Regions from separate parts of the Homo sapiens genome. Here all the other regions are linked to region 5. The links come from fine-mapping of genetic effects on gene expression. A gene starts in region 5. Each other region holds a variant in brackets. All regions are shown on one strand. Distances are between the middles of the regions.

Evidence for each region.
Region 1: its variant is fine-mapped to the expression of ARMH1 in anterior cingulate cortex (GTEx, PIP 0.99).
Region 2: its variant is fine-mapped to the expression of ARMH1 in ovary (GTEx, PIP 0.96).
Region 3: its variant is fine-mapped to the expression of ARMH1 in whole blood (TOPMed, PIP above 0.99).
Region 4: its variant is fine-mapped to the expression of ARMH1 in whole blood (TOPMed, PIP above 0.99).
Region 6: its variant is fine-mapped to the expression of ARMH1 in nucleus accumbens (GTEx, PIP 0.97).
Region 7: its variant is fine-mapped to the expression of ARMH1 in whole blood (TOPMed, PIP above 0.99).

What each region holds. Positions count from the first base shown.
Region 1 is chr1:44,046,589-44,050,837 of GRCh38, forward strand. The region is part of intron 2 of LOC124904169 (a long non-coding RNA gene); the gene reads right to left. It also overlaps a transcript of KLF17 not described here. Among named protein-coding and RNA genes, the nearest start is that of SLC6A9, 17 kb to the left of the region's middle. The variant TCTTTG/T (reference allele first, on the strand shown) is at 2,236.
Region 2 is chr1:44,881,389-44,885,637 of GRCh38, forward strand. EIF2B3 (eukaryotic translation initiation factor 2B subunit gamma) reads right to left here. Exons shown (of 12, transcript NM_020365.5): 7 at 224-351. Among named protein-coding and RNA genes, the nearest start is that of PTCH2, 40 kb to the left of the region's middle. The variant G/T (reference allele first, on the strand shown) is at 2,169.
Region 3 is chr1:44,728,999-44,733,247 of GRCh38, forward strand. It overlaps RNU5D-1 (RNA, U5D small nuclear 1), which reads right to left and starts at 2,172; the gene lies at 2,071-2,172. RefSeq lists a silencer at 342-391. The variant A/G (reference allele first, on the strand shown) is at 1,871.
Region 4 is chr1:44,719,248-44,723,496 of GRCh38, forward strand. The region is part of intron 6 of ARMH1 (armadillo like helical domain containing 1); the gene reads left to right. It overlaps RNU5F-1 (RNA, U5F small nuclear 1), which reads right to left and starts at 2,655; the gene lies at 2,538-2,655. LOC105378690 (a long non-coding RNA gene) reads right to left here. Exons shown (of 5, transcript XR_007066059.1): 2 at 2,712-2,792. RefSeq lists a silencer at 4,190-4,249. The variant C/T (reference allele first, on the strand shown) is at 2,507.
Region 5 is chr1:44,672,416-44,676,664 of GRCh38, forward strand. ARMH1 (armadillo like helical domain containing 1) reads left to right here and starts at 2,299. Exons shown (of 12, transcript NM_001145636.2): 1 at 2,299-2,458. It overlaps TMEM53 (transmembrane protein 53), which reads right to left and starts at 2,066. Exons shown (of 3, transcript NM_024587.4): 1 at 1,916-2,066. The coding sequence starts at 1,976. RefSeq lists an enhancer at 1,510-2,011 and silencers at 1,779-1,918, 2,069-2,118, 2,189-2,238.
Region 6 is chr1:44,174,435-44,178,683 of GRCh38, forward strand. It overlaps LOC124904170 (a long non-coding RNA gene), which reads right to left and starts at 191. Exons shown (of 2, transcript XR_007066057.1): 1 at 27-191. The variant C/T (reference allele first, on the strand shown) is at 2,242.
Region 7 is chr1:44,744,499-44,748,747 of GRCh38, forward strand. It overlaps KIF2C (kinesin family member 2C), which reads left to right. Exons shown (of 21, transcript NM_006845.4): 3 at 2,886-2,987; 4 at 3,154-3,202. Among named protein-coding and RNA genes, the nearest start is that of KIF2C, 6.8 kb to the left of the region's middle. The variant T/C (reference allele first, on the strand shown) is at 1,948.

The sequences.
Region 1 (4,249 bases), 630 kb before region 5:
TCCTATGAAGTAGATACTATATGTTCTTCATTTTAACAGCTCAGGAAATGGATGTGCAGAGGTTAAGTAACTGGTTCAAGTCCATGTGGCTAGTAAATAGCAAATCTAGAATCTGATCTGAGGCAGTCTGGCTTAAAAATATGCATTCTTAGCTGGGTACAGTGGCTCACGCCTGTAATCCCAGCACATTGGGAGGCCGAGAGGCAGCTGCATCACTTGAGGTCAGGAGTTCAAGACCAGCCTGGGCAATATGGTGAAACCTGGTCTCTACTAAAAATACAAAAATTAGCTAGGTGTGATGGTGTGCACCTGTAATCCCAGCTACTCAGGAGGCTGAGGCAGGAGAATCGCTTGAACCAGGGAGGCGGAGGCTGCAGTGAGCCGAGCGAGATCGTGCCACTGCACTCCAGCCTAGACAACAGAGCAAGACTCAGTCTCAAAAAAAAAAAAAAAAAAAAAAGCATTCTCTGTACTAGGCTACAGACATGTCCTTGAAAGTATTTATGCTTACTTTGTTGTTGTTGCCTCCTGTGATTAGAAAATATTATGTTTAGATATGCTTGTTTTTATTTTAAAATGTACAAGAAGAAGTAATGTTGTATTAGTCAGTAAGCTTTGGTCATAGAAATGTTTTCTTTGCAAAGGGTTGCCCATTTTTGTTTTCCTAAGATGGAGCAATTGTACTCATAGCATTGAGCCACCCATTCCTCTGAGTGGGCTAATGAGAGGTTGGTCATGAATTTTGATCTGATGACTTTGAGGAGAGAGAACCGTAAGCACTGGTCCTGGGGTAAAGGGTGGTGTGGTAGGGAGGGAGGAGGAGGACAGATGGTGGGAACCAGAAGAACCAGGTCCAGACAGGCTCCAGCCTGGTCATGAGATGGGGCTGCCATGGTTGATAAATGCTTGAGGTTTGGTTGATGATCTGAGGCCCAGTTCAACTCTTGGCTTCCCCTGGAGCATTGCTGGGGACCCGGCACAGTGACATCAACATCACTAGTAGCCCATCTGCCATCAGTCACATCCATCTTGAGGGAAAGAATGCTTAGATCGTGAGAGCATCCTGCCCTGGGACCAAGGATTTGAGAATGAGGGCACGAGTCGGGGTGCTACTTCCTTCCTTGTTCATATCACCTATTTCCTTCTTAGGTGCCTGGTACAAGGAATAATTAGATAGAAACACATGGGTAGCTTAGATAGGGAAGAGGAAGAATCCCTTAGGAGTCTACAGACGCCATACTGCAACACATTGGCATTAGAAGTAGGATTGTAGTGTCCTCTAGTGGACACTTTGTGAATTTACATAGTATTATTTACTGGATGTGGCCAATAAAGGTGGGCTGAATCCAGAAAAGGGAAGATTGGCATCCAGAGTGTTTGGAGAGTGGGCCCATAAGAGAACATTGTGTGTGTATGTGTGTGTGTGTGTGTGTGTGTGTGTGTGTGTGTGTGCACGTGCACGCACGTATGTGTTGGGGGCTGTGTAGCTTCTCCTAACTTCACCATGCAGAAGTCAAGGAAACGGTTACAGAGGCAAAATGTGGGAGTAGCTAATGGCAATGGCCCAGAGAGATGAAAAAATGTGAGAAAACCAAAGCTTGGAGGTAGGAACTTTCCGATTCTTTTGGAGTAGACTAAGGTGACTTAAGTAGGAAAAGAACGCATAGCCAGTAACTCTCCCAACAGAACTGGATTCGTGCCTGGGGTGATTCAGGATGTCCAGTTAAGCTGGGAAATACTGATTCCACTGATCCCCTTCATTCACTCAGAGCAGACCGAAGACTGTGAGACTTCCTCCCCACAGTGAGCTAAAAGGACGCTTTTGTCAGAGTGGGGAAATAAAAGGGCTTTATGGGAAGGAAGATAAGAACAGATGAGTCAGAGGTTTCTGCTTAATGGTGAGTATTTTTGTCTTAAAATGTGTGTTTTTCTTCTTTGGAGAAGGTACTGCACTCTTTTTGTGTTTTGAGCTGGAGACTTTCTTTGATATGACTGGGTTTTAAGCTAGTTGGTTACAAATGAATATTTGGGGCTTTAGAAAATATTCTTTATGTTTGGATGGGATCTCCTAAGTACATAAATAAATTGTTTTATTATTAACCTAAGTTTCTCTTGGTGAAATTTTCTGTGTGTTTGACTGGCCACAGTGTAATTTGCTTAATTTTTGAACACAGTAAGATTTATCTACAAATTAGAGGTGTTGCAAAGTTGATTTAGTTTGATAATGATTAGTTT[TCTTTG/T]TTTTTATGTGTGTACACAGTGCATTGGGTTTAATAAGCTTTTTATTGGAGTAAATCATTCGTGCAGAAAAATGCATTAATCATAAGCATATAGCTTAATGCGTCACCACAACTTGAACACATTTGTGTAAACATAACTGTCTTAGTCTGCTGGGGCTGCTATAGCAAAATGCCACAGACTGGGTGGCTTAAACAACAGACATTTATTTCTCACAATTCTGGAGCCTGGGAAGTCCAAGATCAAGGTGCTGGCGGGGTTGGGTTCTGGTGAGGGCTCTCTTCCTGGCTTGTAGATGACTGCCTTCTCACTGTGTCTTCACAGTGTAGAGAGAGCATGAGCAAGCTCTCTGGTCTCTTCTTATAAGGGCACTAATCCCATCATGAGGACCCTACCCTCATCACCGCATCTAAACCTAATTTCTTCCCAACGACCCCGTCTCCTAATCCCACCACATTTGGGATTAGGGACTCAGTGCATGAATTTGGGGGGCACACAACATTTAGTTCATAATAATAACCATCCAGTAAAGATGCCTCTCTTGTGCTACCTCCCAATCCCAGCCCTCTGCCCTCCCCAAGGTGACCACTAGCTTAACTTCTAACCACATAGAGTTTTGCCTGTTTTTGAATTTCATATAGTTAGAATTATACAGTATATATTCTTTTCTTTTTGAGAGAAGGTCTCACTCTGTCACCCAGGCTGGAGTGCAGTAGCACGATCTCAGTTCACTGCAACCTCTGCTTCCCAGGGTCAAGCAATCCTCTGAGCTCAGCCTCCTGAATAGCTGGGACTACAGGCATGTGCCACCATGCCTGGCTAATTTTTGTATTGTTTGTAGGGATGGGGTTTCACCAGGTGGTCCAGGCTGGTCTTTAACTCCTGGACTCAGAAAATCCACCCACCTTGGCCTCCCAAAGGGTTGGAATTACCAGCGTGAGCCGCCGTACCCGGCCTATGTATTGTTTTCAATCTATAAGGTTTATCTGTGCTGTTATGTATAGTAGCATGTTCATTTCCATTGTGGTATACTATTCCATTGCATGAATATATAATAATTTATCCATTTTAGCTTTTCAGTTTCAAATAATGTGTATCTTTTGGAGTAGACTAAGGTGACTTAAGTAGGAAAAGAATGCATAGCCAGTAACTCTCCCAACAGAATTGGATTCATGCCTGGGGTGATTCAGGATGTCCGGTTAAGTTGAGAAATACTGTACATCTTGGAGTACAGTTACTGTCTCCTGGCATATGCATATCTTCACCTTTAGTAGATAGCATCGCATGGTTTTATAAAGTGGTTTTACCAATTTATGCTGCCACCAGCAATGTGTGAGTTCAGCAATGATAAAAGTTATTTACACCACAGAAATTGGCAACTTTTACAAATCAGAGTTTCTTTCTTAACCAGTTGTAAAATAATTACCAGCACACCACTGCCAATGAGGTAGGAGGCAGGACTTGGACTCCGGACCAGATTGAGACTAGCTGAAAGGGGAAGAGGCAAAAGCACCTCTCCAAAAGACATGCTGACCAGTGCCATGTCAGTTTACTATTGCCATGGCAACAACTGGATACCACCCCTTTCTATGGCAGTGACCCAACAACTGGGAAGTTACCACCCTTGTTCTAGAAATTTTTGCATAATCCACCCCTAATTTGCATGTACTTAAAAGTGGGCATAAACATGACTGCCGAGCTGCCCTGAGCTGCTACTCTCTACACACTGCCTATGGGGTAGCCCTGCTGTGCAGGAGCAGTCACAGATCCCTAACACTACACTGCCTCCTCAATAAAGCTGTTTTCTTGGCCGGCCACAGTGGCTCACACCTATAATCCCACCACTTTGGGAAGCCAAGGTGGGCAGATCACTTGAGGTCAGGAGTTTGAGACCAGCCTGGCTAATATGGTGAAACTCTGTCTCTACTAAAAATACAAAAATTAGCCAGGCGTGGTGGTGTGCACCTGTAATCCCAGCTACTCAGCAGGCTGAGGCATGAGGATTGCTTGA
Region 2 (4,249 bases), 210 kb after region 5:
GGGCTGGAGGCATGATTAGCCTGTTGCCGAGAGCACAGTGGCAGAATCTGCCTGAGCAAGCTTACCCAGAGCTCAGTGGGTTGGCAAGCCTGTCTTGCCTCGTAGGCTAGAAATAGTCTGCTGCCTTGAGTCAGGCATCTTGGGCTGGGCTAAGCTGCCCAACCACTCTTTCCAAAGGTGCTGCTACCCTTGCCCCTCTTACTGAACCAACCCAAGAACTGACCTAAGGACTTCAGCTCCTTTTTCTTTAGATCCTCCTCTTTTTCTTCTTGTCCCTGTTGTGAGGAAGCTGAGGAAAACTGTTTTCTCACTAAATATGGAATCAGTTCACTCCGGATAGAAGTTATTGACCTAGAAAGAAAGAATGGCCAAATATGAGAAACCTGACTGTCTGGAACATACCCGGATCAAAAGCTCTGTGCATACAAGGAAAAGCCAAATCCTTTCCTGTCATGGCACCTTGGGACTGTCAGAGATCAAATGTGGCATTGACTTGGCAGTTCGGAGAAGCAGAGTGCTTCCTGGTGGGTACTGAGACAGGATGTTGGGTCTAAGTGATCAGGAATCTGTACTAGGGGAAGAAGGGACCTGATCTTTAGTTCAGTGTGTGTTTTTTATTTATGTTTTTATTTATACTTAGCAATGGAAAGCAGAGAGATGAGAAACTAGCACATGTTTTTCAGTGTTCTCTCACACTGTGACCTTATTAGAATTTTATATTGCTAATTAATTTATGTAGCATTTACCAAGCATATGCGAGTTACTGTGCTAGGCCTTGGAAATACATCATTTCTGACTTCAAGGAATTCATAATCCAATGGACAGTAGCCTGTATGAGTTTAAGAGGAAAAGCAGAAGGTTAAGCTAATCAGGTAGGCAAGGGGGCCAGATCACGAAAGCTTTTTGTGGTGAAACCACCTTTGCAAAAATAACAGTGACAAAATTATGACAGTGAAAGAAATCTGACCTAATCAACTCCATCTTGCTGTTAACCTCCAAATTGCTCTTGCTCATTCCTGGACATAGGCTGAGCTAACTTTGGGAGAAAACTTTTTTTTTTTTTTTTCTGAGACAGGGTCTCACTCTGTCTGTTGCCCAGGCTGGAGTACAGTGGTGCGATCTCAGCTCACTGCAACCTTTGCCTCCCAGGTTCAAGTGATTCTCCCACCTCAGCCTCCTGAGTGGCTGGAAAGCTGGGATTACAGGTGTGAGAGCCACATGCCTGGCTAATTTTTTTTTTTTTTTTGAGACAGTCTTGCTCTATCGCCCAGGCTGGAGTGCAGTGGCATGATCTCAGCTCACTGCAACCTCTGCCTCCTGGGTTCAAGTGATTCTTGTGCTCCAGCCTCCCAAGTAGCTGGGACTACAGGCACATGCCACAATGCCTGGCTGTTTTTGTATTTTTTGGTAGGGATGGGGTTTTGCCATGTTGGCCAAGCTGGTCTCAAACTCCTGGCCTCAAGTGATCCGCCTGCTGCAGCCTCTTAAAGTGCTGGGATTACAGGCATGAGCCACTGTGCCTGACTTTTTTTTCTTTTTCTTTTTTTTTTTTTTTTTTTGAGATGGAGTCTCGCTCTGTGGCCCAGGCTGGAGTGTAGCGGTGCGATCTTGGCTTATCGCAACCTCCACCTCCCAGTTCAAGTGATTCTCCTGCCTCAGCCACCCAAGTAGCTGGGATTACAGGCGCCGGCCACCATGCCTGGCTAATTTTTGTATTTTGAGTAGAGATGGTGTCTCGTCATGTTGACCATCCTGAGGTCAGGAGTCTTGAACTCCTGACCTCAGGTGATCCGCTTGCTCCGGCCTCTCAACATGCTAGGATTACAGGTGTGAGCCACCATGCCTAGCCAGAAATTTATTACAGTTTATAGTTTAAATGATAATAGCCCTTCTCAAAATGAAACTGCCTTTATAAAACTAATAAAAGCGTACAAATTTAGGATTACAAGAGGGGCCTGAATTCTCATGATTACCAATCATTTTTCCAAAGGTCACAAGATTTGCAACTTCCCCAGTTACTCCTGTAAGTAACATCACTATTGTTGAACCTAAGATTGGCTTTTTAAGATGTCTTTTCTGACTTTTGCATTTCTGATGACTGGATGACTCCACTGGGACCAGTGACCCCTCTGTGGCCCCCATCCAAAACTGGGCTCAGCAGAGGACTG[G/T]TTTCCACACCCCTATGATTGCATCCCCAACCAATCAGCAGCACTCATTCCCTAGACCCCTGCCCACCAAACCATCCTTGAAAAACCCTAGCCTCAGAATTCTGGGGGAGGCTGATTTGAGTAATAATAAAATTCTGGTTTCCCGTTTAGCTGCCTCTATGTGTATTAAACTCTTTATTGCAATTCTCCCATCTTGATAAATCGTCTCTATCTCGGCAGCAGGTAAGATGAACCCACTGAGGAGTTACAGTAGCAGTCTAGAAAGTCTGGACTGAGAAGCCAGTGGTAATTTTTCCTTGTTAGACGGGGTCTTGCTCTGCTGCCCAGGCTGGAGTGCAGTGGTGCAATCACAACTCACTGCAGTCTTGACTACCTGGGCTCAAGTGATCCTCCTGCCTTGGCCTCCCAAGTAGCTGGGACCACAGGCATGTGCCACCATGCCCAGCTAATTTTTTTATTATTTGTAGAGGCAAAGTCTCACTATGTTGCCCAGGCTGGTCTTGAACTCCTGGACTCAAGCAGTCCTCCCACCTCAGCCTCCCAAAGTGCCGGGATTACAGGTGTGAGCCACCGCACCTGGCTGCCAGTGGTAGTTTTTAAGCAAGAAAGTGACATGAACAGTTTTATCTCTTATTAAGGTAATTCTGGTAGCAATGTGGAAGAAAGCCTGGAATAAGGAAACTGAAGAAAGGGAGACCAGTTACAATATTCTGAGAGATGAGATAATGAGGCCTGAGAGAGGGGTGAAAGTATGGGCAGCTCTATAAACCTGACTTGCTGCATACTTCCCACCACCTCTCCCAGCCCCCATTCAAAGCTCTGCATGCTGACACAAAACCAAACAGATGGAGTGTAGGTAGAAAGGAAGGCAAGACAGAGGCAGAGGCTGAGGAGGGTAAGGAAAACTATGAACCCTGGAGCTACACAGTTCATAGTTTCTGCAATTTTTAAAGAATCAATTTTGAAAAATTCTGTGTTAAGCTGTGAGCTCTTGTATTGAATTTCAATGTGATTTTTCTCCTGATCCTTTGATGAAGATTTAAAAATTTCCATGTGAATACAAAGAATGAAGCAACACTTACTCTTAGCTCTTTTTCTCCCCTTTTAATGCTTCAAACCAGTGTAGGCAGCAAATGTTCCTCCTCCATTGGAAAACAAGTCAGTTCCCTTTGAAGAAGTGACAAAGCACGGACAGCTAGGGGATTTCAGGGCCATGATATTTACATTACAGACCAAAAAGAACTGTCACTGCAAGAGGCAAGCAGACGAGCCTTGGCACATGGCCCCATCAGGCAGAACCTTCGAGAGGATCCATGATTTGAAGAGAGGCTATGAAACAGCCCTGCCAGGTCCCACCCACCTCTGCTGGAGCTCAACATTAGGTCAATCCCCATGATGCAGTTGACTTAGAAACATAATGAAGGAAACAATTACTCTTCCTGCTTCCTAGTTAAAGTGCAGGCAGCTCAGAGCTGTGCCAAGAAATGTTACAAAGCTACAGTGAACCATTGTGAACATCCTGGGCCTAGGCCACTTGCTGGATACAGTGCCCTGGTCAACCTTACTTTCTCCTTTCCCTCTTATACACAGCCTTCCTAGAAACACCTGTCTTATCTCATGAAATCATAAGCTCTTCTCAAGCAATCACAAAGGAGAACAATAGACTTGACTACTAGCAAACAATCCCACCAAATAAAAAGACAAAATAATTGCTATGAATAGGGCAAAGAATATTCTTAATAAACAGATATGTGTTAAAAAAACATATAAAATATTTTCAAAGAAGTAAAAAACTAAAATAAGATGCAATTTCTCCTCCAACTAAATTAACTGATTCAAAACAATTTTCATTACTGATAAGAGTGCTTTGAGAACCGTTACTGTCACATAATGGGAGTCGGAGTATAAACTGATAAAATCTCTGAAAAATAATTGGCAACATTATAGCAAAAGACTTGAAGATATTCATATAATTTCACCCTGTAATTCCATTTCTATAAGTCTATCCTAAGGAAAATATATTACTCAGTAAATATTTGCTGAATAGATGAAATCATCAGATTATAAACAAGAATCTTTCA
Region 3 (4,249 bases), 57 kb after region 5:
TCCATCCAGCCTGGGCGACAGAGCAAGACGCCGTCTCAAAAAAAGAAAAAGAAAAAAAGAAATTGGCAAACAAGCTCTTGTCTCAACGCTATTGTACTGACTGTTCACTCTGCCTAGAACTTCATCCCATATATCCACAGGGCTCACTCCCCCATCTCCCTTCAACTCTACAAGAAGGCCTACTCTTTTTAAAATTGCAATGCACACTACCATTCTCTATACTCACCACCTCCCCTCCCACCTTACTCTGCTATTTTTTTCCATAGCATTACCTTATTATGTTTATTAATAGTATGTCCTCCATCTGACTGTAAACTCCACGAGGACAGGGATACTGTTAGGACAATACCTGGCATGCATGAATCAGTGACTGAGGTATTGTGAGGGAATAGTCCCTCCAAGTCGGAGGAAATGAAGTCAGATGGCAGTAATTCTCCAGGATGCCACAAGAGGGCATCACCAGCCCTGACATTGTTGGTCTAAGGCAGTTCTGCTTTCCCCACTTATTTTGAGCCTCAGCTTTCCTCTTTTTGTACCTACAAAGGAGAGAAAAGTTAACAAAATATATTTATGTTTTGTTGTTATGTTTTCTTTAAAGCTAAATGGATTTCCTATTTTATTTTTGCTGATTTTATTTATTTATTTATTTATTTATTTATTTTTGAGACGGAGTCTCGCTCTTTTGCCAGGCTGGAGTGCAGTGACGCAGTCTCGGCTCACTGCAACCTCCGCCTCCCGGGTTCAAGAGATTCTCCTGCCTCAGCCTCCCAAGTAGCTGGGATTACAGGCATGCGCTACCACGCCCGGCTAATTTTTGTATTTTTAGTAGAGATGGGGTTTCACCATGTTGGCCAGGCTGGTCTTGAACTCCTGACCTTGTGATCCACCCGCATCGGCCTCCCAAAGTGCTGGGATTACAGGCGTGAGCCACCACGCCTGGCCTTATTTTTTTATTTTATTTTATTTTATTTTATTTTATTTATTTTATTTTATTTTTGGGGACGGAGTCTCACTCTGTCTCCCAGGCTGGAGTGCAGTGGCGCAATCTCGGCTCACTGCAACCTCCGCCTCCTGGGTTCAAGCGATTCTCTGCCTCAGCCTCCCAAGTAGCTGGGATTACAGGCGCCTGCCGCCATGCCCACGCCCAGCTAATTTTTGTGTTTTTAGTAAAGACGGGATATCATCATGTTGGCCAGGCTAGTCTTGAACTCCTAACCTCAAGTGATCCACCCGCCTTGGCCTCCCAAAGTGCTGGGATTACAGGTGTGAGCCACCGCGTCCACCGCGTCAGGCTGAGAGATCAAGTCATTTTTAGTTTTTAGTCTTTTTTTTCTTTTTATTTTTGGTCATTGTTTGGTTTTAGTTTTTAGTCTTGAAATGTTTTCTTTTGTATAATGGTAAAAAAATAGTACCCCAGAACTTTTTCGGAAATTTTAATAATTGGGAAATCCAAAAATCTAGGAACCACTGGGCTAAAGTGATCATAATTTAAAAAAAAAAAAAACCCTTTAAAAACTAAACTGGCCAAGCGGGAAGCGGTGGCTCACGGGAGGTTGAGGTGGGTGGATCACTTGAGGCCAGGAGTTTAAGGCCGCAGTGAGCTATAATCGTGCCACTGCACTCCAGACTGAGTGACACAGTGAGACCGTTTCTAGAATAAATTAATTAAAAACAAAACAAAACAAAACCACAAAACAAAACCAAATTTTCGCACGGTGGCTCATGCTTGTAATCCCAGCACTTTGGGAGGCCAAGGCGGGCAGATCAGCCTGGCCAATGTGGGAAATCCCCATCTCTATTAAAATACAAAAACTAACAGGGAATGGTGTTGCCACCTGTAGCCCCAGCTACTTGAGAGACTGAAGCAGGA[A/G]AATCCCTTGAAGCCGGCAGGCAAAGATTGCTCACTACAGTCTAGTCTAAAACCCCACTTCCAAAAAAATAAAAAACGCACACTCACACCATTACAACAGCCCAAAATAAATGTTCAAACAAAATGTTGTCTCACACCTCGCAACAAACACACAACTTTCTATCTGATTTTTAAACACCGTTGATGAACCCCACCAACATAGGGCTTCAAAAAATTTGCTTGAAACTCAAAACGGTTTCTCTCCACGGAAATCTTTAGTAAAAGGCGAAAGATTTATACGATTTGAAGAGAAACCAGAGCATGTGTTGGAATGGTTGCACACAGTCCTCGGGGGACGGTCACTACTAGATTAGCAATGGTTACTATTAACCCAAAAGAGTGACTTCTGTTTTTGTCTCAGACGATTGTGTGAAAGGAGCTTCGTTATTATGGTAAAGGAAAAGAGGGGGAAAAAAGGGAGAATCTCCTTTTAAAGTAGGACGTGGTCTGTGTGCAGTGCATTGTGGGTATGTAAATGACGCTGAGTCACCACCCCCTCGGTTTCCAGAAATACCTTAAATAGTTCGTTACTTTTTCTAGGCGTTAGGCCACCACCAGGGGGCAGAGCGGAAGCCAGATTTACAGAACTGTAGATGCCTGGTCCAACTAGACAGTGACTTTATTTTATAATTGGCACTTAAAGTAAAAAAAAAAAAAATTAAAAGCTTTAAAATAATTGTATTCATAGGCCTGGCGCGGTGGCTCACGCCTGTAATCCCAGCACTTTGGGAGGCCGAGGCGGGCGGATCACGAGGTCAGGAGATCGAGACCATCCTGGCCAACATGGTGAAACCCCGTCTCTACTAAAAATACAAAAATTAGCTGGGCGTTGTGGCGTTCGCATGTAGTCACAGCTACTTGGGAGGCTGAGACAGGAGAATTGCTTGAACCCAGGAGGCGGAGGCTGCAATGAGCCGAGACTGCACCACTGCACTCCAGCCTGGGCAACAGGAGACTCCACCTCAAAAGAAAAGAAAAGAAAACCACATCATAGCAAATACTGAATTTTGTATCATCCCTCTGCCTTCCACAGTATGTAACAAAGACTCCAAAAAGAGTAGCTTGAACAAGCAAGAAGTTTATTTTCACCTTACCTGAAGGAAGCCCGGAGAAGAAATTCTGAGTTGTTACAGAGGTGTCAGGGCTTAGAACATGATACCCCAACATATGGCACCTTGGCATACTGAGTATTTTAAGCCATCAAAGAAACTGAGAAAACTATATAAGCAGGAAGTTATTTTTGACCTTTTCCTTCTCTTCTCCCATGAAGACCTTCGTGTGACCAGTGTCCTGCCTTATGCCCACAGGGAATGAATGTCACACAGAGGCCAAGAATAATCTGAACAAACAGGCTTTGCCAAGTACCCCCCCCACCCATCCAGTTTATTACCATTCGATCATACACTTTTTTTTTTTTTAAAGAGTCTCGCTCTGTCCCCCAGGCTGGAGTCCAGTGGCGCGATCTCTGCTCACTGCAAGCTCCGCCTCCCGGGTTCATGCCATTCTCCTGCCTCAGCCTCCTGAGTAGCTGGGACTCAGGCGCCTACCACCACGCCTGGCTAATTTTTTGTATTTTTAGTAGAGATGGGAGTTTCACTCTGTCAGCCAGGATGGTCTCAATCTCCTGACCTCGTGATCTGCCCGCCTTGGCCTCTCAGAGTGCTGGGATTACAGGCGTGAGCCACTGCGCCTGGCATTTTTTTTTTTTTTTTTTTTTGAGACAGTGTCTTGCTCTGTGTCCCAGGCTGGAGTGCAGTGGTGCAATCGAGGGCCACTGAAGTCTTGAACTCCTGGGATCAAGCAGTCCTCCTGCCTCAGCCTCCCAAGTAGCTAGGACTACAGAAGCATACTACCACAGCTGGCTAATTTTTAAATTTTTTGTAGAGATGACATCTTGCTATGCTGCCCAGGCTGGTCTTGAACTTCTGACCTCAAGCAATCCTCCTGCCTTGGCCTCCCAAAGTGCTGGGGTTACAGGCATGAGCCACTGCACCTGGCCAGAAAATTTTTGATCATTCCTTTATTAGCTATTAAAGCAAATGGAATGATAAAACATTTACTAAATATTCTAAAATTTACTAAAAATTTTACTAAAAATGTACTAAATTTTCTTGTGCCAGTTTTGACATTTTTGACTTTTTTTTTCTAGAAATGTAGAAACTTATTCACACAACAAGAAGTATGGAGACAGGTGGATCAGGAGGTCAGGAGATCAAGACCATCCTGGCTAACATGGTGAAACCCCATCTCTACTAAAAATATAAAAAATTACCTGGGCATGGTGGCACACGCCTGTAATCCCAGCTACTTGGGAGAATTGCTTGAACCCGGGAGGCAGAG
Region 4 (4,249 bases), 47 kb after region 5:
GGCTTCAGGACCAGGCCCCCTCTAGTGTGCCTCAAGGCTCTGGAGCCTGAGGATGATGGGCAAGAGGCAGAGGAGAGCAGGATCTGGCACAAGGGCAATTTCGAGGAGGCAGGCTGGTTCTCTACTAGTAGCCTTTCCATGCCTTTCCTTAGATTGACACACCAGCCAAAACTCATTCTCTTCTTCCTGCCGAAGGGCACTCTGAGCCCTGGAGTGGAGAAGTCAGCTCCCCATCCCTCCGCCGGTGTTTTCAGCACCCAGGAGAGCTGAGCATGCAGCCTGCAGCACACAGGATGTGGCTGCTCCCTCTGCCTTCCCAGACCACTGCTCTTTTGGAAATCATCAATGATAGTTTTCTGACAAAGTTAGAAATCGCCAGCATGTGTTCCTTTTTAGGCAGCATATGTCTGTTTGGAGTTAAACAAGTAAAGTTTGCAGGAGCTGAAGCAGAGACCTGTTCTGTGTGCTCTGTAAATCCACGCAGTCCACATCTCTGACCATCTCACCAGGTGCCCTGTGTCTCCCACTGTGAGAAGGACCACACTCTTCCCCTTTCTGTTGTGCCTGGGTTGTATGATATGAGCATCCATAGAGTGGTGCCCAGTTCTGGGGTGGCCAAGAAGTATAAGGTCCTGGCTTCAAAGCACTCTCAAAGTTGGCCATGGGGCCAGGTGCAGTGGCTCACGCCTGTAATCCCAACACTTTGGGAGGCCAAGGTGGGTGGATCACCTGAGGACAGGAGTTAGAGACCAGCCTGGCCAACATGGTGAAACCCCGTCTCTACTAAAAATACAAAAAAATTAGGCAGGTGTGGTGGCGGGCGCCTATAATCCTAGCTACTTGGGAGGCTGAGGCAGGAGAATTGCTTGAATCCATGAGGCAGAGGTTGCAGTGAGCCAAGATCGTGCCATTGCACTCCAGCCTGGGCAACAAGAGCAAAACTCTGTCTCAAAAAAAAAAAAAAAAAAAAAAAGTTGGCCATGGGGTATACGGGGAGACAGCTGCCACAGTTCTGGCTCTCCAGCCTGTCCAAGATTCAAGCTAGGAAAGTTCTGTAGCTGTGTGAATGAGGACCACAGTGGCCACTGCAGAGCCTCCTCTGGGGTCATCCACCACCAGGCTGGTGGTTTCTAAGCGTGGTCCTAGGCTGCCATGACCCAAGCCTCGCCTGTTGGAATGCAGAATCCAATGAGGTCTTTTCAACAAGATGTATGGAGCATGCATTGTGTACATGGAATGGTTTCAGGCTCTAGGTAAACAGAAGTGAGATGTGTCAGATATGTTCATTGGAGTTCACACACTAGTGAGGAGACCATTTAGTGGATAGTACTAGAATTCTATAGCAAGAATTCTATACGGTGCTACGGGTTCAGAGACATAGGACATCTACTCCTGAGTGAAGAGTGAAGGCAGAGGAGAGCAGGCCAGGGGCAGCTTCCTGAAAGTTGATTTCTCAGCTGAGCCTAGAAGAATGAGTAGCAATAGCCAGATAAAGAAGACTTCTCAGGCCGGGCGTGGTGGCTCACACCTGTAATCCCAGCACTTTCGGAGGCCAAGGCAGGTGGATCACTTGAGGTCAGGAGTTCAAGACCAGCCTGGCCAACATAGTGAAACCCTGTCTCTACTAAAAAATACAAAAATTAGCCAGGCGTGGTGGTGCGCACCTGTAATCCCAGCTACTCGGGAGGCTGAGGCAGGAGAATCCCTTGAACCCAGGAGGTGGAAGCTGCAGTGAGCCGAGATCGTACCACTGTACTCCAGCCTGGGTGACAGAGTGAAACTCCATCTCAAAACAAAACAAAACAAAAAAAGGGCAAAAGAAAGAGAAGGCACTGAGATTCTGCTCTCGGTGGGAAGTCTGATACCTCTAGCATACATACTTTAAGTTGGACCCCAGAAGACAGTACCCTCAAGGTCAAGGTGGGCCAAAAGTAAGCCGGCCCTCAGGTGGTCTTGTATGGATTATATAACTACCAGGTGGTCCAGAGAACCTCAAGTGTTGAATGTGGACAAAGGTAGTCCAGAATTGTTTGTGTCCCCAGGTACCTGATAAAAACAAAAGAAAACTATCTCTGGAAGAAAGTATCATCATCCTAACTCTTAAGTTTTTCCTACACTTAATTTTTCAAATATGAGACCAGTCCAAAGTATAAGATAATCATGCACACAAAGTCATCACTATAAATTGGAACTAGCACACTAGAAAGACTCACAAGACTTCAGCCAAATTATTAGATACAGACTGTCAAAAACTAGGTTTTCTTTTAAAAAAAAAAATCTTATAAACATTTAGCTTCCTAAATGTTTACAAGAAGCTAAAAAAACATGACAGTAGGCCGGGCACTACAAAAAGTACACAAAATTAGACAGGCTTATGAGGCTGAGGTGGGAGGATTGCTTGAGCATGGGAGATGGAGGTTGTAGTGAGCCGCGACCACACCACTCCGCTACAACCTGGGTGACATTTGTGGAGCTACCCCAACCTCCCAAAGCATGAAACACCCCA[C/T]CCACACGTCTCTCTTTAGTAACAGAACATTCAGCCTTGCCTAGGCAAGACTTCAAAAAATTTAACCATAAACTCATAGTTGTTTTTCTCCACGGAAATCTTTAGTAAAAGGCGAAAGATTTATTCGTTATGAAGAGAAACCAGAGATCTGCCTGTTAGCCTTTTGCCTGGCTTCCCAGCTATTGACTGGTCTCCCTCTACTTACGGTGCCTTTGGACCTGCAGACAGAAGCTTTTCTTCCACTGTAGAAAAGTGTCCTAAACATGTTCTCACTGGGTAAAATCTCCTGACAAAGAAAAAAAGTTTAAATATTATTATTCAAACAGATAACCCTGGTAATAATTCTCGTATCTACAATGCATTCTGGGATGCAAATGAGCTGAGCGCCGGAACAAGAGTTCCTCTAAACCCTCTCTCTCTTACCAGTAAATGGAGAGAGGCACTTGACTACTGAGCTGGGGAGAGCACATGGCCAAGTCCTGTCTTCCATGTAGCCACATGTGTTCAGAGTAGCAGTGCCCGGTGCACAGTGACTCACACCTGTAATCCCTGCACTTAAGGAGGCAGAGGTAGGAGGATCGCTTGAGCCCAGGAGTTCAAGACCAGCCTGGACGACAGAGTAAGACCTTGTCTCAGAAAAAAAATAAAATTTAAATTTAAAAAAAAGTCCAGGCGTGGTGGCTCATGCCTGTAATCCCAGCACTTTGGGAGGCCGAGGCAGGAGTTCTCGGTCACTTTGGGAGCACTTTGGGAGGCCTGAGCACTTTGGGAGGCCTGAGGTCAGGAGTTCAAGACCAGCCTTGCCAACATGGTGAAACCCTGTCTCTACTAAATACAAAAATCAGCCGGGCGTGGTGGCAGACGCCTGTAATCCCAGCTTCCCAGGAGGCTGAGGCAGGAGTATCGCTTGAACCCGGGAGGCAGAGGTTGCAGTGAGCGATTGCACTCCAGCCTGAGTGATGACAGTGAAACTCCGTCTCAAAAAAACAAACAAACAAAAATACTAGCATTTACTGGCTGGGCCCACCGGGCCCAGTGGCTCATGCCTGCTATCCCAGCACTTTGGGAGGCCGAGGCGCGTGGATCACGAGGTCAGAAGTTCAAGACCAGCCTGGCCAAGATGGTGAAACCCCATCTCTACTAAAAATACAAAAAAAAAAAAAAAAAAAAATTAGCCGGGTGTGGTGGCGGGCGCCTGTAATCCCAGCCTACTCGGGAGGCTGAGGCAGGAGAATTGCTTGAACCCAGGAGGCGGAGGTTGCAGTGAGCCGAGATCGCGCCACTGCACTCCAGCCTGGGCGACAGAGTGAGGCTCTGTCTCAAAAAAAAAAAAAAGGTAGCATTTATGCTGGTGTGCCATCATCTTAGCATCTCCTTCTCCTCCTGCCCCCTCTAGCTCTGTGGTTCCTTTCTCTTCTTTACAAAAACATTCAATCCTTGCCGATTTTCTCTTGTGCTCCCACAGCCCAATCACTGACTCCTTCCACAGCACCTGTCACCATATCATCGCTGCCTGTTTGTGCACGCTTAAGGAGGGTTGGTCGAATGAATGAATTCAGTCTGTATCCTCAACACCCAATGCCGCGCCTGGCACCATAGGCGTTCACATGCAGCCGTGCCGAAAGACTGAGTGAATGCTGGACTGAATGAATGACTGCCTGTAAAATATCTACAGGAAAGCCCTGCAGGAAATGCCCTCCATAAATTCTAGTCCCCTTCTCCTTCCTAACCAAATCCTCCCCT
Region 5 (4,249 bases):
AGCTCCTTGGGCGTGTGAGTCACTTCTGAGTGGCCAACAACGATCCCACAGCCAGGACACAGCAAATACTGAACTGAGAGCGGAAATTACAGGAAGGCCTATTGTGGCTCAAGAAAGGGAAGTGCTTTCTAACAATCCCAGCTGCCTCCAACAGGCTAGAATGTTTGGGCAGAAGCATCGCCCCAGGGAAGGGTCTGCTAGCAATGGAATGCACTCATGCCAACAGAGGGAGGCAGGACAAAACAGTCTCTGAGATTTCTTCCAATTCTAAGACCCAGCCTCCTGGAGCAGCAAAGGGAGCCATGGGATCCGCCACTGCACTCCGGCCTGGGCGACAGGGGAGACTCCATCTCTTAAAAAAAAAAAAAGAAAGGGGGGCTGAGGGGGAACCACAGGGGAGCAATGCAATGGCAGCACCTGCACTGTGCCAGGGACACACATCCAAACGCTACCTCGTAACCCTCGCAATCCCACGAGGAGGTAGGCACTAGTACTCTTCCCATTTCACAGTGGAGGAATCTCAGGCTCAGGGAGGTTCAATAGCTTGCCAAAGACATATAACTTGTAAGACATGGAGCTGAAATGTGAACCAGGACCACGAGGCTGCCCTCCTGGCCGTGCAGAAGGCAGCTCCAACCCTTTGCAGCCGAAGACTCTCCAAAGGAAATAATATTAACTGACTTCATGGCTTGCTGACGCCAAAACGTGTCCAAAGTATTTTTACATCTATAAACCCAAAAGCGCTAAGCCAGCAGATCCAGTTCTAGGGAAAAACAGCTGGTCTGGGGCCATCTGTTCTGCGGGAGTCTAAGGGCTGCCCTCTCCTAGACTCCAACCAAAGAACATGAGATGCTACGGGAGGGATCTGGGAAGGCTCTCCTTAAGGAGGTAAGTTTTATGGAGAGCAGAGTATAAGATCAAACCTTTGCATTAGAAAGATCACTGTGGTAGCAGTTTAAGAGGCTGGGCTGCAGGCAGTGAGACAGGAGGCGTGAAGGCGATGCTGGACTAATGCAAGTGAGGGACACGCTGGCCTCAGGCTGATCATACTTCAAGGCCCTTCTGCCAGAATTCCCAGAGAGACCAAACTTTCCACTCTCTGGACCCCGATCTACTCACACTGTCATGGATGCGGGCCTGCTGTCAATCCTAATTTTGTGGAGAATCCTACATGTCTTTCTTTAATGTAAGGAGAGAAACAATGCTGATCGTAAATGCCAATTACTGAACTCACTCCATGCCAGGCCCTTTACACAATCTCCAGATGGCCCCAACAGCCCTATGAGGAAGGTTACTATCCTTATCCCGGTTTTGCAGAGGAGGAAACTGAAGTTCAGAGAAGGTAGCTTACCAAAGGTAATCCAGCTCCTAAAGGAAGGAGTCAGGATTTCAGTCGAGTTCTACCCGACGGCAGAGACTGCACTGTTAACCACTGCCGAGAAGAGTGGAGAGGGACGGCTAAGGGTTCTGAGTCCCGGGCTTCTGCGAGGATCGGTGACCCCGCGAGCCTCCCCCTCCACGCCTTCGGGAAAATAATAAGTGATAGGCTAGATGTGGGAAGCCCAATCCCAAACAAAGGAATCAGGAGGGATCCAGCTTTCGGCAGCCTTCAGCTATGAGAAGTGATTAAAGGGCATGGACCTGAGCACCCCGGACAGGAAAGACAGAAAAAGAGGTCCCAAGCGAGCAGCTGACTCGGGCAGAGGCGGGGCTCGCCAGGGAGGAACACTCTGGGGCGGGACTTACGAGGGGCGGGGCTCTCTGAGCCTCTCTAAGTCTAGGACCTGCCAGACCCTATGAGGGGGCGGCCCGAGGGAGGGCGGGGCCGCATGAGGGGCGGGGCTACAGCTGCGCTCGCAACCCACAGGTTCATGAGGTCACCTCCCCGCGCCTGGACCCAACCCTCATTCCATACTCTGGCTCCAGCAGGGCTGATCCGGGATCTCGATGGTGTAGTCCAGCTCTGCCGAGGCCATGGTGAAGGCGCCGGCCCAGAGCACGGGTCTCCAGCCGGAACTCCCGCTTGCGCACCCGTGCCTCACCCGGGCGCCTCCTGGGCGCCGCCCAATCACCACACACCTCCCCCAACACGGCCCAATCCCTGCGCCGCGCTCTGTGACCTCCCGCCTTAGCAACCACCGAGTCTCTTCCAGAGCCTCTCGCCTCACCCCACTAGCTCGGCCCTAGCAACCATGCCCCGCCCCTATTACTGACCCGCAGCCATTGGCTAATTCGCTTGATCTGGATCAGGTATTGGTCAGCCGGGGCGCCGGTCAGGAAGAGTCCCCACCCTCTCATGTAGGTGAGAGGCGGCTGAAGAGTTGCTGTATTCTGGGAATGGGCAGGGTCACTCGTCCGAACAGAGTCCTATCCTACGCGGCGGAAGAGTGTGCCCTTTGACTTGCATCGTCTACCTACCTCTGCCATCCTCTACCAGCCGCAACTGCGAGGGCTGGAGGTATAAAACCGTACAAAACGGCCTAGGGGGCGCGTGCCGACCCAACCTCCACCCAGTGGGGTTGAGGCATATTCTGGATGGATGGATGGATGGATGGATGGATGGGTGGATGGGAAGCAGTCTTCAGTTGATGACTTTAGAGAATGCCCTGTTGATAGGGCCCACCGAGGAGCTGGGAGTGCAACTTTCTTGCATTTATCTATATTTACATACTATGTGCCAGCATATTTACATACTATGTGCCAGAGACTGGGTGGGCTAAATAAGGTTCCTTAGGCCCTAGTGAGAATCAAGCTTTTGGCCCTCCCTCTCCCATGTCTTAACGGGAGAGGGAGAGAAACCATGCATGAAGCAACTCTGATTCTGCGTGTGAGATAAATACTACAGAAGAGTAAGGATTTGAGGAGCTCAGAATCAGAGAAGGGGCATTTATGGCAGTGGGGTTGGCTCTTGAGCTGGGCCTTGAAAGACTTTTAGAGATAGGGAGGGGGAAAGACTCTTTGCATGCCAGGCGCGGTGGCTCAAACTCGTAATCCCAGCACTTTGGAAGGCCAAGACGGGAGAATGGCTTGAAGGAGTTCAAGACCAGCCTGGGCAACATAGTGAGACCTTCATCTCTACAAAATTAAAATTTTAAAAATTAGCCAGGCATGGTAGCGCATGCCTGAAGTCCCAGCTACTTGGAAAGCTGAGGTGGGAGGATCACTTGAGTCAGGAGGTCAAAGCTGCAGTAAGCCATGATTGTGCCACTGCACTCCAGCCTGGGTGACAGAGTGAGACCCTGTCTCAAAAAACAAAACAAAGAGCCCAGTGTGGTGTCTCACCCCTGTAATCCCAGCACTTTGGGAGGCTGAGGCGGGCGTATCACTTCAGGTCAGGAGTTCGAGACCAGCCTGGCCAACATGGCGAAACCCCATCTCTACTAAAAATACAAAAATTAGCCGGGCATGGTGGTGCACACCTGTAATCCCAGCTACTTGGGAGGCTGAGGCAGGAGAATGGCTTGAACCTGGGAGGTAGAGGTGGCAGTGAGCCGAGATTGCTCCACTGCACTCCAGCCTGGGTGACAGAGCGCGACTCTGTCTCAAAAAAAAAGAAACATTAGTGCAGGAACTGGATTGAGGATTGGGAGAAGGAGGGAGACCAGTTAGGAGGTTGTTTCAGTAGTGGGGAAGGATTATGGTGGCACAAAGCATGGAGTGGCAGCTGAAATGGAAAGGGCAGGATGAATTCCTTAGACACTTATAGCTAGAAAAAAATGGACTTGGTTACTAATTGGGTGTGGGGGAAGTAAGGGAAATGAAGGATGACTTCTAGATTCCTGGTTTGGGCAAACAGGAAGGAGAGGAAGCAGGGGTTTTTAGGAGAGGGTCAGTTCTGGGCACGGTGAGCTTGGGGTGCCAATGGAACATCCAAGTGGAGGTATCCAGAAGGCCATTGGATATGCCTAACTGGAGTTCGCCAGATAAGTCTAACTGGAAGTTGCAGTGTGGGAGTCTATGGGGCCTTATAGATGCCAGCCACACCAATAGATTTGTTGAGCTTGCCCAGGGAGTAAGTGTAGAGTCAGAAGAGACCTAGGACAGAGCCCTGAGAAACACCCAAGTTTGAGGGTCTGGCAAAGGAGGACGAACCTGCAAAGGTAATCAAGATGAAGTGTCCAAAATGGTAAGAAGATCAGTAGTAGTATGTGGTGTTTCAGAAGCCAAGGAAGGAAAGTGTTGAAGGCTTATGACTAATCAAGTAAAATAAGGCCTGAAAGAATCCACTGGATTTAGAAACAAGGAAGTT
Region 6 (4,249 bases), 500 kb before region 5:
GTCAGAAAGTGACATTCTTTACTCACCACAGGTCAGGAATGCTGTACAGGGGCTGTGTAGACAAGGTATGAGGCCAGTTTTCTCAAGGTGCTTTTATTGGCTCTATAAGTCAAGTTTAATTCTTTAAAGGAAAGCATATCATTCCAGTCAAAGCCTTGATAAAATAAACAGTTCCTCCAATTATGTCCTGTTACAAAACAAAACAAAACAAAACAGATTCTTATTGCACTTATGCAAATAACTATATTGTCATAAGTTAAGAATACTCACAGTTTCCAAATTCTGAAGAAATCAGATAGAGATAAACAAATATGTTCCAAATTTTGTTTACAGGAGTGTGTTTAAGAAAATTTTTCTTGACTCTGAAAAACAAAACGAAGGATCAGCAACATTTTAAGCAAAAAGTCAAAAAGGATTACTTCAGTCTTCTGCTAGCTCAGTCCATGCAGTTAACTCCTGTTCTGTTTGATGTTCATGAATATTTCAGCTCTCCATGAGAGTCCTGAAAGTTTTTTTCCTTTGTTCTAATGTCACAATTTCCAAAGTTATTAGAAACCTGCATTCAAGAGCACCTATCAAAGTCCTATTGCTAATTACAAACCACCTTTTGAAGAGGATCAAAACAAGACAACAATTGTCTGTGGATGACAAAAAGTCATAAGACAGCCATTATTAAAACCACAATTGGGCCAGGAGCAGTGGCTCACACCTGTAATCCCAGCACTTTGGGAGGCCAAGGCAGGTGGATCACGAGGTCAAGAGATCCAGACCATCCTGGCCAACATGGCGAAACCCTGTCTCTACTAAAAATACAAAGAAATTAGCCAAGTGTGGTGGCACACGCCTATAGTCCCAGCTATTCGGGAGGCTGAGGCAGGAGAATTGCTATAACCTGGGAGGTGGAGGTTGCAGTGAGCTGAGATCATGCCACTGCAGTCCAGCCTGGGTGACAGAGTGAGACTCTGTCTCAAAAAAAAAAAAAAAAAAAAAAAAAACACAATTGACTAGGAATTTTGGTTACTTACTTCTATAGCATTGAACAATTTTATGTAACAATTATAATTATTAATAATAACATACACTAAGTCATATCAGAATTATAGGAGTTTCCCATAGTTTTGGAATACATACCAATAACATTTATACAAATATAGTCCAAAGAATACTAAACAGCATTTCATATTTGACAAGGCTTCTTGTATGATTTTTATACCAAATAAGCTGAATATGTCTCTTTTGGACATCAGGGGGCTAATATCAAAAAATTAATGAGAACCCAAGTTAGAATTTGACTTTGGAAAGTTGGTCAAATATAAAAAATTTAAAATGCTTGATATAACAAATAGGATCACAGGCCATTATAAAATAAGTCATTCATTTAACTGAACTGATAACTCAAAGATTTTTTTAAAAAGGTGAAAACCATTATTCTTTGAGAGAGGAGACTTAATTTCCCAAACAATAAGCCCTAATAAAAATAGCATGAGGCTGATTACATTTGTTTTTCAAAATTTTATAAACAACCTATACAATTTTAATTATCTTGACCATAATATATAATTTCCATAAGCCTTTTATAACTTTTATACTTTTTATTAAGGAATGGGTTAATGCTCCAAGAAAACCTTGTTAATCTGACACAGGGGCTCATATACTGGTCTTGCATCAGTGTGCCTTTGACATTAATGGTTTATTTATAGAGAACTTGAACTTATTTTATCTCTCAAAATCGGCCCTTACAATCTCATGTGCCCATCTCTTCTGTGATAGTACCTGAATCTTGAGGAGTTGAATAGTTTTAATTTGTGGCCCTGAGTCTCACGAACGCAGTTTATTTTGATTGGCATCTTCTACCAGGCTTGAAGATGAGGATTTAATTGCTGTTAGTGTTTAAGATTTAGAAGGACTTGGTGTCTTTTTCAGACCCAGAAGTCAAAGCCCTGTAACTTAATGGCACAAGGACTTTAAAAGTACATACAAGGCCAGGCGCAGTGGCTCATGCCTGTAATCCCAGCACTTTGGGAGGCTGAGGCAGGTAGAGGTCGGGAGTTTGAGACCAGCCTGACCAACATGGAGAAACCCCATCTCTACTAAAAATACAAAATTAGCCAGCCATGGTGGCACATGCCTGTAATCCCAGCTACTAGGGAGGCTGAGGCAGGAGAATCACTTGAACCTGGGAGGTGGAGGTTGCGGTGAGCTGACATTGTGCCATTGCACTCCAGGCCCAGGCAACAAGAG[C/T]GAAACTCTGTCTCAGAAAAAAAAAAAAAAAACATACAGAAAGATATACTGATGTAATAAACTTAATTAAAAAAATTTTTTTAATCTCAGTTTTTTTCCTAAGCATACCAAAACTTTATAGTAGTGGTATAGGAATTGTTTTGATAAAATATAAAATCTGTTGGACCAGTTACTAAAATGCAAAAGAAAAGACCTTCTGCAGTGCACAAAATATTATATTGGAAGAAAACATTTCCTTTAGACTTTTAAGAAAACATTTTTAGCATCAGGCACAACAAACAGAACCCAAGGCAAAAAATATTTATATGAGCTGAAAATGAGTTGAAGGAGAACATTATTATTTTGCGCATTTTAAAAAGGGAAAGGAAACCAAAAATGGTGAGACGTAATAAAAGTTGAACTTTGGGTTAAAAAAAATTAAAGTCTCAAATAATTTATTAAGAGTAAATGAATCCCTAAAGAAAATTTCATTGTTCTAAACAATTCTCGGCTGGGTGCAGTGGCTCGTGCCTGTAATCCCAGCACTTTGGGAGGCCAAGATGGGCGGATCACAAGGTCAGGAGATCAAGACCATCCTGGCTAACATGGTGAAACCCTGTCTCTACTAAAAATACAAAAAACTAGCTGGGCGTGGTGGTGGGCACCTGTAGTCCCAGCTACTCGGGAGGCTGAGGCAGGAGAATGGCATGAAGCTGGGAGGCGGAGCTTACAGTGAGCCGAGATTGCACCACAGCACTCCAGCCTGGGCAGCAGAGTGAGACTCTGTCTCAAGAAAATAAATTTAAAAATACATAAATAAATAAATAAACAAGTCTTTAGTGTATATGTGTTTTTTTTTAAACATCAAGACCCCATCTCTAGAAAAACTATTATAAATAATTTCTCTTTAATTATAGACAACTTGACACAAATCATTTATGACATGCTTGGACTTCCTGTTTTATCCTAGATATCCTTCTTTCTTAAATAACCAATTATTTTATTTTAGGACAAAAATTTACCATGTAAGATTCTTTCCCATAGAAAATTATTTTTCTTTTAACATTTCTTGCCCAAAATACCTCTTTATGTTTTTAACTTTCTTTACATTGTTCTTATTCATTGATTACCTTTACCTAATTTCTTAAGTAACTCTTAAATACCCTTTGAATTAGATAAAAATTATTTTCCTTTAAATAAGAGCACCTTTCTTTTTTTTTAAGAAAAAATGTTTTCCTATAATTAAAAAAATTGGAAATAGCCCAGACATTTAATGAATATCTATTATTTAGCTTAATATAACTTTAGACTTTAAATTATATGATAAGATTATCTACAAGCATATATTCCATTTACCTAAGTAATTTTTAAAAAATAGTTTACTCAGTTTACTTACTAAAACTGTGATAGTTATAATTTAAAGATATTTCCTTGTTAACCATTTTTATGACCTGTGAATTTCAGCTTTTCATGAGTAAGAAATTTAAGGTTAAATAGATGGGTTTGTTTTTTTGCCAATAATTCAGGATTTAGCTGTTTTCATTAACCAAACAATATTAACTATGTTATTTATTACATTGCCCATAAACAAAGAAAATTCTCTTTTGAGCTGCATTCACAGCTTTATAACCCTCATGCCAAATTTTGACATCTAGCAGAGATAAATAATGTATGTTGACAATTCCAAAGCCATTTCTATTTCACCAAAAATTTTAAAACCAATTTATTTATTAAAGTTTACTTAAGTCTTGTGAACTTGAAAAAGCATTTGGTTTAAAGTCTCTCTTTTTTTGATAAAGTATTTGATTTAAGTGCTTTTTTAAGCCAATTAATTAGAGCTCCTTTATACATTTTTAGTACTAAAACATCATATGCATGACACATACATATATAGATATATTAACCACCAAATAGAAGTCAATCTTACAGACTCACAAGTCCTCTATTTTTTTCTCCTATTTTAGACTTTCAATTTCTTGATAACCTATTTTATTACCCTAGGCAATTGTCAGCTAGACAGCCCTAAATT
Region 7 (4,249 bases), 72 kb after region 5:
TGTGACTGCCTAATTCCCTGCTGCCTTTACACTCTTATTCCTTTCTCCTGGGATGTTCACCCTGAATTATCAACATGAGAATCAGTTGATTGTCAGAGCAAGGCTTAAAACTCTGGTTTTCGCGGGTCGTGGTGGCTCACACTTGTAATCCCAGCACTCTGGGAAGCTGAAGCGGGCGGATCATGAGGTCAGGAGTTCAAGACCAGCCTGGCCAATATAGTGAACCTGCATCTCTACTAAAAATCCAAAAACTTAGCCGGATGTGGTGGTGCGCACCTGTAGTCCCAGCTACTCAGGAGGCTGAGGCGGAAGAATCGCTTGAACCCGGGAGGTGGAGGTTGCAGCGAGCTGAGATCGCGCCATTGCACTCCAGCAGCCTGGGCGACAGAGTGAGATTCCGTCTAAAAAAGGCCGGGCGTGGTGGCTCATGCCTGTAATCCCAGCACTTTGGGAGGCTGAGGTGGACGGATCACCTGAGGTCAGGAGCTCAAGACCAGCCTGGCCAACGTGGTAAAACCCTGTCTCTACTAAAAATACAAAATTAGCTGGACATGGTGGCGCATGCCTGTAATCTCAGCTACTCAGGAGGCTGAGGCAGGAGAATCACTTGAACCTGGGAGGCGGAGGTTCCAGTGAGCCGAGATCATGCCACTGCACTCCAGCCTGGGCACCAAGAGTGAAACTCCATCTCAAAAAAAAAAAAAAACCTCTGGTTTTCTTTGTTGTTTATGCTCTCTGTAGTTTAGGGGTTAGAAATGGGGGAGGTATGTACCAAGAGTCTGTGGCTGTCCCAGAAGTGTGGATAGAAGTGTGATTACTGAAGTGCTTGCCAGCTTTTGCATTTAGTGATTCTATCCTCCTTTTTTTTTTTTTATTTAAATCTCATTCTGCTTTGATTTCCTTTGTACATATGACTTATAATCCCCATTAGAAATTGAGCTCATGGTGGCAGGGGTTGTATATGTCTTTTTTTTTTTTTTTTTTTTTTTTTTGAGACAGTGTTTCGCTCTTGTTGCCCAGGCTGGAGTGTGATGGCGCTATCTTGGCTTACTGCAACCTCCGCCTCCCGGGTTCAAGCGATTCTTCTGCCTCAGCCTCCCGAGTAGCTGAGATTACAGGCATGCATCACACCTGGCTAATTTTTTATTTTTAGTAGAGACGGGGTTTTTCCATGTTGGTCAGGCTGGTCTTGAACTCCCGACCTCAGGTGATCTGCCTGTCTCAGCCTCCCAAAGTGCTGGGATTACAGACGTGAGCCACCACGCCCGGCCTATATATGTCTTAATTCATCTTTGACTACCTTCCCCCTGTAGGCTGCTGTCTTCGTGGTGCCTAACAAATGTTTGAATAGGCAGCAAATAACTGCAGATTTCTTTTTTCTTTTTCTTTTTTTTTTGAGACGGAGTCTCGCTGTGTCGCCCAGGCTGGAGTGCAGTGGCGGGATCTCGGCTCACTGCAAGCTCCGCCTCCTGGGTTCACGCCATTCTCCTGCCTCAGGCTCCTGAGTAGCTGGGATTACAGGTGCACGCTGCCACACCCAGCCAACTTTTTGTATTTTAGTAGAGACAGGGGTTTCACCGTGTTGCCCAGGCTGGCCTTGAACTCCTGAGGTCAGGTAATCCGCCCACCTCGGCCTCCCAAAGTGCTGGGGTTACAGGCGTGAGCCACCGCACCCAGTCCTGCAGGTTTCATCTCTAGGCAGTAAAGCCCTCACCCTAGAGTACATGCTTCAGCTCTGTCACATTTTGAAATACAAAGTTGGGACAAATTTAATATGTCTGAACCTGTTGTAAAGCTATCCTGGTGAAGTTTGAGTTGTTCCTGGAGAATTGCAGGACTCTGATGATGTAAACTTAGAATTGTGACCTCATTGCAGGCATCAACAGGAAATAGGTAAGGCATGGGCAGGAAGCCGTAACTGGGGAAGTTTCTGGGCCCAGAAGAAAA[T/C]GTAGGTAGTCTTAGGGTTAGGTAGCAGCTGTCAGGAACTTGCCCCTGCCCATAAGATCCTAAAGGGCCCCCATTTGACTCTCACCAGACAGTTAGAACTTGTTTCCTCCTCCGTGTCAGCCATCAAGAGGTGCTTGGGGGGCTGTGCCCAGCAGGACCTCACTGCCCAGCAGATCAGCAGGGGAGCCAAGTGGCCTAGATCTGCTGTGGAGTACCCGACTGTTTGCCTGCCTGTCTGCCCTCCTCTTCACCTCATTCTCATCACTGACGTCTACCATTGGCTTGGAAATCAGAAACCCATATCCATCTAGATGGTAAACCATTATTAAGGAGTAACTATTTGTTTTATAGCTATTCATACTTAGTGGAACTTAAAGTTGGTAAAGTTTGAATTTAGGGGTACCCCTGTCTATAGAAATTTAATTTTTTCTATGTTGTTTTTTTGTTTGTTTGTTTGTTTTTTGTTTTTTGAGACAGAGTCTTGCTCTGTTGCCCAGGCTGGAGGGCAGTGGCTCAATCTCAGCTCAATGCAACCTCCGCCTCCTGGATTCCAGCAATTCTCCCGCCTCAGCCTCGGGGGGGCCAGGCACAGTGGCTCACACCTGTAATCCCAGCACTTTAGGAGGCCGAGGTGGGGAGATCACCTGAGGCCAGGAGTTTGAGACCATCCTGGCCAACATGGTGAAACCCTGTCTCTACTGGAAATACAAAAATTAGCTGGGCGTGGTGGCGCATGCCTGTAGTCCCAGCTACTCAGGAGGCTGAGGCAGGAGAATTGCTTGGACCCAGGAGGCAGAGGTTGCATTGAACCAAGATCGCACCACTGCCCTCCAGCCTGGGCGACAGAGCGATACTCTGTCTCAAAAAAAAAAAAAAAGAAAAAATGTATTTGGATTGAACAATGTTGTTTCATTGAAACTTTTACTTGCTCCTTGCAGATTGATTTTGATGATGTGGCTGCAATAAACCCAGAACTCTTACAGCTTCTTCCCTTACATCCGAAGGACAATCTGCCCTTGCAGGAAAATGTAACAATCCAGGTAGGTGCCTGTCATCTGGCTGCAGCCAGTGCGCCAGAGAATTCACTTTGCTTATTGACTCTTTGCTGATTGATTGTCTGGCATTTTAGCATAGTACATGGGCCCAGGATGGGCCCTTGAGAATTGATAAGAGCCATATATTGTGACAATTTGATTTGTTTTTCAGAAACAAAAACGGAGATCCGTCAACTCCAAAATTCCTGCTCCAAAAGAAAGTAAGTGGATTTCTACTAGCTTACTATCATGGAATTTGTGTCAGGAATTATGTTTCTAGGACTCAGAGTTGTGGAAGCTCCTCTTTTGCAGGTGGTTTCTATGTGGGTTGAGTCCTGCCTGTGTTCCAAGCATCTTTCTCTATGAGAAAGAATCCAATCTACAGCTATCAGGCCAACCTTTAAGAGACCTGGTGCATTTAGGAAATTTGCTGCCTGGCCTAGAAACCTTTTCTGTAGAATCCAGAGCCTGATGCTGAGGAGAGTAGGAATCAGCCATTGGTAGGCCTTTTTTCTTCCCTCGGGGCTCAGCCCCCTCAGTGGAACAGTATGCCTTGGAAAGAGATTTTGAAAATGGGAGACACTAGGCCTGTGGGTTGTTTAGAAGTACAGTTGGTGGCGCTATAGAGAGGGATGGCTGGGGCTGGAGAGAATAACAGCATTGCCTCGTGGTCTAGGAGGTTGGGAGTCTCTCTGCAGAAGTAGTCTGTGAAAACCTACTTTGACAACATGATAGACTGTGACTCTAGGGGGTAAGCTTCCCAAAAGATCCAGCTTAAAGCCAGTTGTACCTTGAAGGCTGGTGACCTGCACAGCTCTCCAGGTCTAGGGGTCATCATTGCCCTGAAATGATTCAGCTACCTCAGGGACTCACAGAATACTTGGCTGGAGCTTCAGGTTCTGGGGGCCCTGAGTGGAAGGTGGTGCCATTGCAAGCTTGGGCCTGACTATTGTGGTGCTGGCCCTTTCTTGCTGGGTGTACCGTAAGGTCATGCAGGAGAGTTGGGACTCGCAGCAGTCCCATTCCGTGTTCATGTCCTCAAAGGATATTGCCCCAGCTTTGTTTTGTTTTGTTTTTCAAAGGCAGGGTCTCACTTGGTTGTCCATGCTGGAATACCATGATATGATCGTAGCTCACTGTAGCCTTGAACTCTTGGGCTCAGGCAATCCTCCCACCTCAGCCTCCCATGTAGCTGGGACTACAGGTGTGCCCCATCACACCTGGCTAATTTTTTTTTTTTTTTTTTTTGTAGAGACAAGGTCTCACTA